2 separate regions of the Homo sapiens genome follow, and region 1 is linked to region 2. Evidence: fine-mapped expression QTL. Tissue or cell type: thyroid. Region 2 holds a variant in brackets; the other region holds the start of a gene. All regions are shown on one strand. Distances are between the middles of the regions. Region 1 holds the start of HNRNPM (heterogeneous nuclear ribonucleoprotein M). Region 2 overlaps HNRNPM (heterogeneous nuclear ribonucleoprotein M).

Region 1 (2,904 bases), 21 kb before region 2:
AGCACACGTAACATCTGATGGTGCCAATTCGACTGTCTGCACTTGGAAAATGGCACATTGGAGGCTGCACAGCACCATAAAACTGATGCCACGAATGCACACAAAAATAAGACCATACAGCATTATGCCTAGTACAGAATACACCCTGAATTCTGTCACAGTTCACTTTATGCAACATTGCAAGAGTCCTCTCGCTCTTTATTATTATTTTTAATTTTTTTGAGATGGGGTCTCACTCTGTGACCAGGCTGGAGTGCAGTGGCCCGATCTTGGCTCACTGCAACCTCCTCCTCCTGGGTTGAAGCGATTCTCCTGCCTCAGGCTCCCCAGTAGCTGGGATTATGGGCGCCTGCCACCACACCCGGCTAATTTTTGTATTTTTAGTAGAGACAGGGTTTCATCATGTTGGCCAGGATGGTCTGATCTCTTGACCTCGTGATCCACCCGCCTTGGCCTCTCAAAGTGGTAGGATTACAGGCGTGAGCTGCCGCGCCCAGCCATTAATTTTTTTTTTAATTTTGTTTTTAACTTTTAGGTTTGGGGGTAAATGTGAAGGTTTGTTAAATAGGTAAACACTTGTCATGGAGGTTTGTTGTACAGATTATTTCATCACCCAGGTATTAAGCCCAGTACTCAATACTTATCTTTTTGTTTTTTGAGATGGAGTCTCAGTCTATCTCCCAGGCTGCGGTGCAGTGGCGTGATCTCGGCTCACTGCAACCTCCGGCTCCTGGGTTCAAGCGATTCTCCTGCTTCAGCCTCCCGAGTAGCTGGGATTACAGGCGCCCGCCACCACGTCCAGCTAATTTTTTTATTTTTAGTAGAGACGCGGTTTCACCATGTTGGCCAGTCTGGTCTCGAACTCCTGACCTCAGGTGATCCGCCGCCTCGGCCTCCCATACCCAAAGTGCTGGGATTACAGGAGTGAGCCATCGCGCCTGGCCCCATTATTAGTGAATTTTAACAGTTTTCCGTTTCTTCTGGACGAACTGTTTGCAATTATAATGCGAATTACGGATAATACTCTGATATTATTCCATGCCGTTCCGTTGTTGCCTACAAAGTTCGCGCTGGAGAACCGCGCAATTGCGTTACAAAAAGAAAAAAATCACACAAAAAGACACAATGTTTTAAGAAAGTTTACGAATCGTGTGCCGGACCGCGGGTTGAACAAGCTTCATCTAAAACTTCCAGGAATCTCTAGACAGGATCATTGCTTCCCCTCTGCTCCAGCTCTGGTTACAGAAAGCTGAGAGTGACTAGGTCTAGGTGTTTGTGTGGGGTGGGGTGGGGAGATGCCTCCTCTATCGGACTCAGAGGACGCGCGCCGGGAACAGCCAGTCGGTGCCTAACGCGAGTGTATCTCGAGAGAGAAGCGATCAACAGCTGCCGGTCTGCGCCTGCGCGCGGCGGGGGCGTGGCCCGGGGCGAGTGGGGCCAAGGAGGCAGCCGGGAGCGGCGGGCGCAGGTGTTACTGGTTGCGTCGGGTCACGTGGGCGCGCAGGCGCAGCGCGGTGCAGCCCGTTCGCTCACACAAAGCCCAGACGCGGAGAAAATGGCGGCAGGGGTCGAAGCGGCGGCGGAGGTGGCGGCGACGGAGATCAAAATGGAGGAAGAGAGCGGCGCGCCCGGCGTGCCGAGCGGCAACGGGGCTCCGGGCCCTAAGGGGTGAGTATCCCACGGTCCTTTGCCACGGGTAAGGGTTCCTCTCCGCGGCCGACGCGGGCGGCGGCTCCGTTAGGTCTGTTGGCGGCCTAGCCCCGGCGCGGCCTCGGCCCCGGCTGTTCCCGTACCGCCTGCTCAGGGTAGCGGCGTCTAGGGCCGTGAGCGGGGAGCCGGGGGAGCCTCCAGAATCGTCCCCTACACCGGGCCTCGAGCCTCGCCACCCTCAGTCCCTCCAGGCCGGGGCCAACCCCGTAGTCGAGGCCTCAGGCCCAGCTGCTGCGCATGGGGGTTGATGGCGCGGGCCCGGACCGGAGAGCCTCCGAGGCCTACCCGACCGCTCCCCGGGAGGGTGACCTCGGGGGCCGGGTTTCAGCCCCCCGTCCCCTCTCCTCCCGGGGTCTGTTTTCTGATCCGTAACGTGGGGGGAGGAGAGAGGGTGCGCGCCCGGGAGGCCTCGCGCGCAGTCAGCCCGAGTCAACGGTAACCGAGCGAGGGAAGCGTCAGGAAGGGCCGCGAAGCCGGGTCGGGGGGCTCCCCTCCTGCCCCGCCCCTTAGTCCCCGCGCGCCGACCGCGCTCCGCGGGAAGTGCCTCCCTCGGAACCGCCCCTCGCCCCACGCTCTGGCCCTGGCTCAAGTCCCTCGCCGTTTCCCGCTCCTCCTCCCCGGGTGCGCCGCAGGTATTAGTGGAGAGATGGGATCTGCTGCTTAGCGTTCACCCTCGGAAGCAGACAGATACGAAGTCGGGGGAGGAATCCCCTTTTTCCCGTGTTTCGGGGAAGCTGTTCTGTCAGGAGGCGGGTTCATTTACTTCCAGACTTCATCAGCTTTTCGAGTCCTGCTTGGGGCTCTTTGACTCCTTGGCTTTTAAAAGTTTCTTTAAAGGAGGAAGCATCGACTTGTGCCCCGGTGAAACTCATTCATTCTGATTACAGACACTTAAGAGAGACAGAGAGGTTTTGGCTCCAAGATCAGCGGCCGGGAAGGAAGGGGAAGCCTGGGTACACATTGAATTTCCCAGACATTTATTTCATTGTGGTAAAATAGACATAACGTAGACTTTGCCATTTTAACCATTTTTTAAGCGTATAATTCAGTGGCATTGAGTATACTGACTCAGTGTGCTGTAACCGTCACTGCTTCATGTCCAGAACTTTTTCATCATCGGAAACAGAAAGTGTAGCTATTAAATACTAACTCCCTCCGTTTTCTTTCCTTTCTGTCTGTGACTTTGCCTTCCTC
Region 2 (2,904 bases):
TGGAAGCCATTGACGGGGTTTGCAGAAGTTACAAAACCCCATTGATGAATTAGTAAGATTCAGCTATACCAAGCCCATGAAGCTCTAATTTCAGTCTGGCGGTTCTACATTATATCAGCTAATCATGTTTCCCTCCCTACCCTGCTTTTCTTTTTTACTTAGTGCAATTGAGAGCTGTGTTTTTAGTGCTACACTTCATGCCTTTTCTTCCTTTCCTATTTCTTTAGCTGGACTCTTCTAAGCTGGTAGTTGAGTTCATTTGACTTTCTTGTTAATAGATTTGAGAGATGCTTTCCAAACAACCTTTCAGTTTCTAAGTCTTGAGAATATCATTTACTGTGCAAGCATGGTTTGCGTTGTACTGGGTCAGTTAAACGTAACACCTTTTGTGCTTGTTTTAGGATCCTGATGGTGAACATGCCAGGAGAGCAATGCAAAAGGTGATGGCTACGACTGGTGGGATGGGTATGGGACCAGGTGGCCCAGGAATGATTACTATCCCACCCAGTATCCTAAATAATCCCAACATCCCAAATGAGATTATCCATGCATTACAGGCTGGAAGACTTGGAAGCACAGTATTTGTAGCAAATGTAAGTAAACAGAACCATCGTCTAAAGTAGAAAATCAGAACTTTATGAAATGACCTTGTCAATATGTTATAAAAGTAATTCTCACATTTGAGAAGAAAAATGTAAAGAAGGGTTTTGTTCTTGATTTCTTTAAAAATCAGCCTTATAGGCGGGCTTTGTCTGCATTCCTAAGTCACAGGCTTGACCGTGGTCTCGTTGGGGCTGTGATTCCTGAGTTTCGCAGGTGTTTCCGCAAGCAGTAACCGAGTCTGCATTCTCCGTTGGTTTATTTTATGCAGTTTTGGTGCAGAGTAAGACTGTACGAGCAGAAGTGCACTGACACCTTCCTCTTGTTGTGTCTGGGGTGAATGATAATACCTCCACCATCTGCAAGGGGAAATATTTTTAGAATAAAGTAGGTTGGGTGGGGTGGGGAGTGGTAAAGCTTATCAGGGAAACAATTTTTTAAAAATGTTCAGAAAATGAGTATTAATTTGAAGTATGAGGTGACTTAAGTTTCTGAGAAAAGAGACAATATATTTACTATAGGTACAGTTTATTTACAGTGAAGGCCAGGCTTTATAATCCTATTTTAAAATTTCCATTGCAGTTGATTAGTTTTTGTGACATTATTTCCTAATACTTTTTTCCAACCAAAGCATGTATCATTCATGTAGTAAAAATGTTGTGTTTCTTAAGATGTTTACATTGAGGTTTTTACCCCGTTCTCTCTCGATTAGCTGGATTATAAAGTTGGCTGGAAGAAACTGAAGGAAGTATTTAGTATGGCTGGTGTGGTGGTCCGAGCAGACATTCTTGAAGATAAAGATGGAAAAAGTCGTGGAATAGGCACTGTTACTTTTGAACAGTCCATTGAAGCTGTGCAAGCTATATGTATCCTTCTGCAGGAATTCAACTTATGAACAGTTTGACCTAAATTGCTGTGTTAGTAATGTAGGTTTGTGTGAGGAAGAGGT[G/GACTGTGTGTATTC]ACTGTGTGTATTCATGTTTTTTATGTGACTAGGGGGAGTGCATTACTGTGGAATTAAGAGGTTCTCTGGGCCGGACCGGTCACGGTGGCTCACGCCTGTAATCCCAGCACTTCGGGAGGCCAAGGCGGGCGGATCACTTGAGGTCAGTTCGAGACCAGCCTGGCCAACATGGTGAAACCCCGGCTCTACTAAAAAATGCAAAAATTAGCTGGGCGCAGTGGTGGGTGCCTGTAATCCCAGCTACTCGGGAGGCTGAGGCACAAGAATCGCTTGAACCCGGGAGGTGGAGGTTGCAGTGAGCCGAGATTGCGCCACTGCACACCACCAGCCTGGGTGATAGAGTGAGACTCAGTCTCAAAAAAAAAAAAAAAAAAAAAAAAGGTTCTCTGGGGGTGGAATTGATTCAATACAGTGTGGATAGAGGGGATGGTTACAACATGGGCATATGCCCATGAGTCTTTCTACTGTTTTCTTTTCAGAAGAGTCTAGGTTTGAAGGAGGAAGTCCAAAGAATGTGCTACTAGAGAGAAAGTGGGGTTGTTGTTTCATGTGTAATACATCCTTATAGGACCTCACTCTTTCCAGTGAGTAGACATCATTTTGGAAGAGGCCACTTCTCCTTGACCCTAGGCTTAGCCTAGAGTTTTTAATCCCTTGGAGAGTACCCCACAGGAGCACATTCATACAACTCAGACAAGACCGTCACTGCATGTCTTACCCAGAAAACATGGTCCTTCAGTTTAGATAGTGGTAGATGCCTGGCCCATTGGTCACATTCAGAGAACCTTGATGCCACTGCTTAAGAGGATGGTTTGGTGAAATTGTAAGGTTACGAATGAAGCTTCACACCTAAGGAATAAGCGGAAGTTGTCTTGTCCTCCCCGCCAGCTTTATTTATTGTTCCTTTTATGTTTATTGTTGAAAGTATAATGAAGAATTGAAATTGCTCATAAATTCATCACTTAGAGGGACTGGTAGCAGTTGGAGTATTTTTCTTTCTTTTTGTATTTCTCTTGTGCACATTTTTAGAATTGCAAGAAATAGCCTTAATTGTAATACCAGCTATGTTCAATGGCCAGCTGCTATTTGATAGACCAATGCACGTCAAGATGGTAAGTCAGTAGGATCTTTCTCTGTGATATACTCAAGTCTAGCAAAAACATGGAATTAATAAGAGTGTACATATAGCCACTATGAAATATTTGTGGATTAGTCTAAGTTAAATAGGGTGCAGTATGTTGAGCAAAATTGTGAGAGAAATAACATTTTGCTGGTCAGGCGTGGTGGTTCACGCCTGTAATCCCAGCACTTTGGGAGTCTGAGGCAGGCGGATCATGAGGTCAGCAGTTCGACA

What was found.
Region 1: HNRNPM starts here. The variant in region 2 is fine-mapped to the expression of HNRNPM in thyroid (GTEx, PIP above 0.99). The same link has a PIP of 0.9 or more in breast, pancreas, prostate, stomach, subcutaneous fat and sun-exposed skin.

What each region holds. Positions count from the first base shown.
Region 1 is chr19:8,443,444-8,446,347 of GRCh38, forward strand. It overlaps HNRNPM (heterogeneous nuclear ribonucleoprotein M), which reads left to right and starts at 1,532. Exons shown (of 16, transcript NM_005968.5): 1 at 1,532-1,668. The coding sequence starts at 1,556. RefSeq lists silencers at 1,291-1,570, 1,811-2,040.
Region 2 is chr19:8,464,923-8,467,826 of GRCh38, forward strand. HNRNPM (heterogeneous nuclear ribonucleoprotein M) reads left to right here. Exons shown (of 16, transcript NM_005968.5): 6 at 402-593; 7 at 1,313-1,466; 8 at 2,613-2,662. Among named protein-coding and RNA genes, the nearest start is that of HNRNPM, 21 kb to the left of the region's middle. The variant G/GACTGTGTGTATTC (reference allele first, on the strand shown) is at 1,550.